Homo sapiens: one gene and its partner. The protein of the gene in region 1 interacts with the protein of each later gene in a pairwise test. Each region holds a gene or a part of one and is shown in the gene's direction. Other genes may lie near its edges.

Region 1 (3,837 bases):
GGGTAACGTGCTAGAAATCTGGGAAGTCTGCCCTCTAGGATACTGGGAAAAGCTGTTCCTGGGGATGTGTCCTACTAGAGAAGCTGTTACACGAGTGGTGCCAGGGGAAGCTGCTAGGTCCTGCTGGCCATTGTGCACGCCAGGAGCCAGGGTTTGGTGAAACTGCACAATTGACAGGAGCCAGATGCTATAGAAACCACGGGTGTTACAGACAGGAACTTGCTAAATGAGCATACCACAACCAGGAATCAAAACCTCTCTTCCTACAGTGTATGTTCAGTGACTTCCTGACGAAGCTTAACATTGTTTCAATTGGCAAAGGAAAAATATTCGAAGGGTACAGATCCATGTTCATGGAGCCAGCAAAAAGGATGAAGAAGAGCTTGGACACAACCGATAACTGGCACATCCGTCCAGAACCCTTCTCCCTCTCAATCCCTGTACACTGCGGGTTTCTCCAAATGCCTATTGTCTATGATTTGTTTTGTCCATCGTTCTTAGTCACGGCTTAGTTCAGGTTCTTGCCATCTTTCACTTGTTCCATCAGCCTTCTCTCTCATCCAGTCTAGTTTCTTTGTTTGTTTGTTTTATCATTTTTAAATTTTTTGTAAAGACAGGGTCTTGCTTTCTTCACCAGGCTGATCTCGAACTCCTGGCCTGAAGCAGTCCTCCCACCTCAGCCTCTCAAAAGTGTTGGGATTACAGGCTCGAGCCACCATGCTAGGCCAGTCTATCTTCCTTAGTTCTCCATTTTCTTCTATAAGACAGAACTAATCATGTTACTTAGAGAATTAAATTCAAACATGGCTCTTCACAGTTTGGCCATAACCTATCTCTTTAATTTTTTCTTTCCTTGAATTTTTTGAGATATTCCAGACCCTTGGATGGCTTTTTGTTTGCCCCCGTCCCTAAGCCGCCTTGATCATTTTTAATAGCTTAAAAAGTACTTTTAAGTATTTTATTTCATCATGCCTTTAACTGTCTTTTACTATGTGCTGTCATGTTGTATGCTAGGATACGTAGATGAGTAAGGCATGATCTCTGCCTTTGATCCTTACTATTAGGAAATAAGGTGTATTTTATAGTTATGTTAGTATTGAGAAAATGAATTCTAAGAATATGAGTTATAGCTAATTTAAAAAGTACCGTATTCCCAGACATCAGTCCAGAGCTATATAATCCGTGTCCATGCCTCTTTTAAAAAAAACTTTATTTTTAGAGACAGGGTCTCCCCTTTGTAGCCCAGGCTGAAGTGCAGTGATGCTGTCATAGCTCACTGCAACCTCCAGCTCCTGGGCTCAAACATTTCTCCTGAGTAGCTGGTGCTGCGGGTGCATACCACCATGCCCAGCTAATTTTTAAATTTTTCATCAAGATGATGTCTTACCATGTTGCTCAGGCTGGTCTCAAACTCCTGGCCTCAAACGATCTTCCCACCTTAGCTGTTTTGGGTTTGAGTAACATGTAATTGTTACTTGCCTTTAAGTGCCTCTCTTTCAGCTCATGTGGACAAGAAAATAATCCCTATCCTGTTGTTTAAAAGTGGGTATACACACATTTTTGTGATTTTTAGACTTTTTTGCCTGATTTTCACACAGTTTTGACTTTAATTTTCTTCTTTATTAGAAGATATGGGTAACTTTAGAACCTCTGAGTTCAAGGAAGGATCTAAGCAATGAGGCCAGAGGAGTGAGATGTCCTATGGTAACCAAGCATACCATTTCTTTGTCAAGTGGGCTTTTGTTTATGGCTGCTTAGGGGCTTAAAAGCTCCATGGACTGGTGAGGATTATCATTTGAATGGAATTTCCCCAATTCAAGAACCTTACTATTATCCTCCAATCAGTTCTACACTGTTGGGGAAAATCCCCTGGACCTTATATAACATACTTTGTAACCCTGCAGTTAGTTACTCTTACACTCTTGTCATTATAAATGCTTGATCAATAGTTGATAGACTAGCTCTTGATCAGAGTACCCTTGTATGGAGAGAAGGAAAAAATGCCATACATTTCACTTGATTCTGTGAACCATAATGCTTAGGACAGTAGTGGTTTGGGTTTGATTTAAAAAAAAAAAAAGTTTTTCTCATTCATGCTGAAATGTCATCTCTTTATTTAAGGATACCATTAGGAATATAATTTTTTAACCTATGTCAAACCTCATATGACTGATCTCAGTAAAACGAACTGTGAAAATATTTGCATCAATTTATTTTTAAATATTAAAAAAAGGAAATATATTTGTTAGACTTTTAAAATCTGATTGTTTTAACTGATAATATGTACTCCTTAGGTTAAATATCTTGATAATATTAATGCATACCTGGTTGACCCAATCTTTTACAGCCTTCACTTAACTTAAGGGACCTTGGATTATCTGAACTAAAAATTGGACAGATTGATCAGCTGGTAGAAAATCTACTTCCTGGATTTTGTAAAGGCAAAAACATTTCTTCCCATTGGCATACATCCCATGTCTCTGCACAATCCTTCTTTGAAAATAAATATGGTATGTTAATGTGTTTTTTGTTCCAATTAAATATTTTAGCACTATTAATAATTATAGATACCATTTCTTAGCTTTCACAGTAGCGTTTATTGTGGGCTGGGTTCTTTCCTGAAGTGTTTTTTTTTTGTTTTTTTTTTTGCAATTTTTCATATTGAAATAGTACCAGATTTACAGGAAAGTTGCAAAGATAGTACAGAATTTTGCTTCCACTAATTTTGGCATCTTACATAATCATGTTACATTTGTTAAAACTAGGAAATTAACATTGGTACAATAATTTTTTTTTTGAGACGGAGTCTCCTTCTGTCAGCCAGGCTGGAGTGCAGTGGCACAATCTCCGCTCACTGCAAGCTCCGCCTCCCGGGTTCACACCATTCTCTTGCCTCGGCCTCCCAAGTAGCTGGGACTACAGGCGCCCGCCACCACGCCCGGCTAATTTTTTGTATTTTTAGTAGAGATGGGGTTTCACCGTGTTAGCCAGGATGATCTTGATCTCCTGACCTCGTGATCCACCCTCCTCAGCCTCCCAAAGTGCTGGGATTATAGGCGTGAGCCACCGTGCAGGCCTAACATTGGTACCTTATTTTTAACTAAACTACAGACTATTTGAATTTCAACAAAATTTGTTTTCACCAAATCACTAGTTCTCTGCAAGTGTCCTTTTTCTTTTCCAGGATCTGATCCAGCATACCACATTGCATTTAGCAGAATGGGGGGGCGTTGTTTGTTTTAATTTTAGGTGACACACATTTAATTCCAGGAAACATACTTAATCTTTGAGAATACATTGATTAAAAAAACAGTTGTTATCCCTTTTGTGGAATGTCTACATTTTTTTTTACTTGAATCTCATAACAGTATGGTAGTATAATAAGTGGGTTCATACTAGTCTGAAAAGGGATGTCAACTTTATGAGTTTTTCTTTGGATGGCACTTAAACAGGCCATAAAAATCCAGGAACAAAATAGCAGGTTTGACTAGTTTATAATGAAGGTTTGATTTGAAGCTGTCCTTTGCATAAACTTAATTCATTAATTCTTGACCCTTCCTTTGCCTTTATTTCAGTGTAAGGGCATAAAAAACCGTAAGTGTGAGGAAAAAATGAAATGGTTTTGAGCTTGGGGGCTTAGACTAAAAGTTTGCCTCTGCCTAAAGTTGCCTTCTTATAAAATATTTGGCCCATACCAAGTGTTCAATAGAATAAAATTCTTTTTGTTACTATGTTATTATGATTATTCCTACTGCTCTTCTAGTCTGCATATTTACATTTACTCTTAAGATTGTTCCTCATACCACCAGCTGCTTGCTAGGTTTAGGCAGGCAGAGG
Region 2 (3,837 bases), on another chromosome or scaffold:
CCTCTGCAGGCCTGGTAACAGCAGACCTATGCTGTCTGTGTAAGAGCCTTCTCAGCAGCACACCATCGTTACCCACCAGGCTCCTTGCGAAAGGAAATCTTGTCCCAACTGCCTTGGCTGTGCTTGGCAGTGTGCTCTATATAAGGAGAACAGGATGTATTTTACACTTGAGACCTGCTATCCTAGAGTACAACAACAACACTTCTAAGTGCTCTTAATATTAAGCTAATGGAAAACATACTGTTTGTTCACCATCAAAGTCTGTTTTTCTTGTCTCCCGCCCTCCCCAATCATCATGAACTCCAAACCTCTAGAACACACAGAGCGTCTCCTGCACCATCTATCCTCCAGTCTGTCTCAAGATGGACAGCTACATGGTTAGTTAGCTAGAGGAGGACTTGGAAAAGCTAGGCACTTACCACATAAACCGTAAAATCCCCAGATTGCACAAACCAAATTTTCCTCTTCTCAAAAAAATCTCAGTGCTACAAATGTTTCATTGACTATTAGATTCATTTTATTAGTGTGAGAAGTCACTTGTCTTCACCAGAGTACAACAAAGTGCAGTAAAATGGTGAAGATGGGTCAGGGTTTCTGGGTGCTGGCATTATTGGAATGCTGGTTCTTTCCTTGTCATTTAATGGTCAAAGTTATTTGGACCCCAGAAGTCTAATCTTTATCTTCCATTGCTTTGTATTGTGAGAAGCCACATCTGTGTAAGGTTTCCAGTTGACAGGATTCTAGAGTATGGCCCAGCTCAGTCCAGAAATGCCCAGGTTTCCCCTATCACTGAAGGCGCTATCATAAATATAGCATGGGAAGAGGGGGGCAGAGGGACAGAGAAAGCAAAGTGGGACTCTGTCCCATAAAAAACGATTCACAAATCTACTCATTTCCTATCAGCATTTTGCTTTTTGCTTGGGTTTGTCTATAAAGTAAAGTTAATGTATGCATGTAAACCAGCCTTGCAGATAAAATCCCCCCATGTTTCCAGGCTACCCACAATATTACCAGTTTTCCCCTTGCTGCTTACACATCTTCTTTCCACAAGACAATAATCAAACAACAACAAATAAATAAGCAAATGAACCAAAGACCACCTCTCCCCTTTCCTAAAACAAACCCTTTCACTTTTGTCAAAAAGACCGAAATTGAAAACAAAACAGAAACTCTGGGAAATAACTCACCACTCTTCTTTTGTTTCAGGCCTTGGGCCTGTTAACTATCTGCAAGGCTGTTGTAATGATGTTGTAATCTATTTTAATGGAATTGAAATGTGATATCCTGTGGTTTATGATGCACGTTGTTTGTAGCTGTAGTGCTTGATTTTGGGTTTCTTTCACAGATAAACTTCTGCACTGGAGGGGCCTCTCCTCCCCTCGTTCTGCACATGGAGCTCTAATCCCCACGCCTGGGATGAGTGCAGAATATGCCCCGCAGGGTATTTGTAAGTTGAGCCTTATTTCTTCTACAAATGTCCATGTGTATAGAGATGAGAATTTCTGGAAATTGCCCTTACTTTTTAAGTACTGAAGGAGTTACTTCCAAAATAGATTGTCATATGTATTATTCCATTACTCACTTGGCAGCCGCTCCCCACTCCACTCAGCCCCAGAGGGACTTCTTCCCTCCCCTTTTTCTTTCCTCACTGGAGGCTGGGAGCTGATAGTAGCTCATCCCTGTGGGTCTTCTCCCCAGGGTCTTGTCTTGCTCCGTGGCTAGTGATTGAAGATGCCTGTGCCTCTGGAGCCCATTTTATTACTGGACATTCACTCCTGTGGCCTCATTTAGGACTTTGGGTATAGTCCATGGCACACATCTTTAGCCAAGGCCAGAATCAAAAGGAGTCAGTTTAGGGTTATTCCAGAGTTATTCCAATGCATATTCCTTATGTATTTACATGTGTATTTGAACATAGTATATGTTGTATATTCATGCCCACACATAATTTTGACTAATTTTTCTCCTGGTTTTAGAGAAAAATGCACATCATTGTAGTTAAAATGTGAAGGCTCTACTATCACCACCACCACCACCACCATCACCACCACCACCACAACCACCACTGCCACCATCACCACCACCACCACAACCACCACCATCACTACCACCACCACCATCACCACCAGTACCATCACCACCATCACCACCACTACCACCACCACCACCATCACCACCACCACCATTACCACCACCATCACTACCACCACCACCATCACCACCAGTACCATCACCACCACCACCATCACTACCACCACCACCACCACCACCATTACCACCACCATCACTACCACCACCACCATCACCACCAGTACCATCACCACCAGTAGCATCACCACCACCACCACCATCACCATCACCACCAGTACCATCACCACCAGTACCATCACCATCAACACCACCATCTCCACCACCACCATTACCACCACCATCACTACCACCACCACCATCACCACCAGTACCATCACCACCAGTACCATCACCACCACCACCACCATCACCATCACCACCAGTACCATCACCATCATCACCACCATCACCACCACCACCATTACCACCACCATCACTACCACCACCACCACCATCACCACCACCACCATTACCACCACCATCACTACCACCACCACCATCACCAGTACCATCACCATCACCATCACCACCAGTACCATCACCATCATCACCACCATCACCACCACCACCATTACCACCACCATCACCACCACCACCATTACCACCACCATCACTACCACCACCACCATCACCAGTACCATCACCATCACCATCACCACCAGTACCATCACCATCATCACCACCATCACCACCACCACCATTACCACCACCATCACTACCACCACCACCACCATCACCACCACCACCATTACCACCACCATCACTACCACCACCACCACCATCACCACCACCACCATTACCACCACCATCACTACCACCACCACCATCACCAGTACCATCACCGCCATCACCACCACCATCACCACCACCACCACCACCATCACCACCACCACCACCACCATCACCACCAACACCACCATCACCACCACCACCACCACTACCACCACCATCATCACCACCACCACCACCACCACCACTGCCACCACCATTTACTTGTTCAAGTGAGCTTTTATAGTAGGGACCATTTTATGAAACTTAAATTTGTCCATTTATACAAATGTTTTCTGAAAGATACTGTTTTAGAAAATAATACAGTTTGCTTCTCTGTGTAGGAACACATGGTATGAATCATGCATGGCTAAAAGGTTAGGGGGTGGGCAGTGATTCCACCCTAAACACAAAAAAGCAGGTTCAAGAAGAAAAGAAGTGTGACATCTAATTTTTATTTGAAAGTAAATGAAAAATAACCTGCTGTGGAAAGAAAAAAAAAGAAAAGGAAAAAGGTCATGGAGAGAGAATAACAAAGAGCAAGATGCCAGAGTTAAGGCTCTAAGGGGGACTGTTTTTAGATGGGAGGGAGATGACACTTACCCATCTTGTAAATGGTATCTGAAGAGCAGGGCATGCACCCTGAGACCAGATTCAAAGCCAGTTGTTTATTTTTGTTAACTCCTAGGTAATCCTAGGTAACAAAGAGTTATTGTGTGAATTTCATAAGCCCTCAGGTCCTGAGGGCTGGGTGGTTCAGGGGTTAAAAGCACCTCATCTGCTCCCTTCCCCCAAGCTGGGCCTAAGCCTGGGTTAGGTCACAGATTGCAGAAGGTTTAGGAGGTTGGGCTCACGGTTTCTAGTCCCTGCATGCTGGCTGGGTGGGGAGAGCTCTCCTGTTGCTGGGGGCATCTGGGGCCTGCATGGGGCTGTGGAAAC

What was found.
Region 2: the proteins of YME1L1 (region 1) and BCL11A interact in a two-hybrid assay, tested with the Homo sapiens proteins (one large-scale study listed by BioGRID and IntAct).

The regions. Positions count from the first base shown.
Region 1 is NC_000010.11:27,144,101-27,147,937, reverse strand, and holds part of YME1L1 (ATP-dependent zinc metalloprotease YME1L1), read left to right. Parts: intron 1-269; coding exon of another isoform or gene 270-440; intron 441-2,347; coding exon 2,348-2,510; intron 2,511-3,837. UniProt on the Homo sapiens protein: ATP-dependent metalloprotease that catalyzes the degradation of folded and unfolded proteins with a suitable degron sequence in the mitochondrial intermembrane region.
Region 2 is NC_000002.12:60,466,342-60,470,178, reverse strand, and holds part of BCL11A (BCL11 transcription factor A), read left to right. Parts: intron 1-1,345; coding exon 1,346-1,447; intron 1,448-3,837. UniProt on the Homo sapiens protein: Transcription factor. Associated with the BAF SWI/SNF chromatin remodeling complex. Binds to the 5'-TGACCA-3' sequence motif in regulatory regions of target genes, including a distal promoter of the HBG1 hemoglobin subunit gamma-1 gene.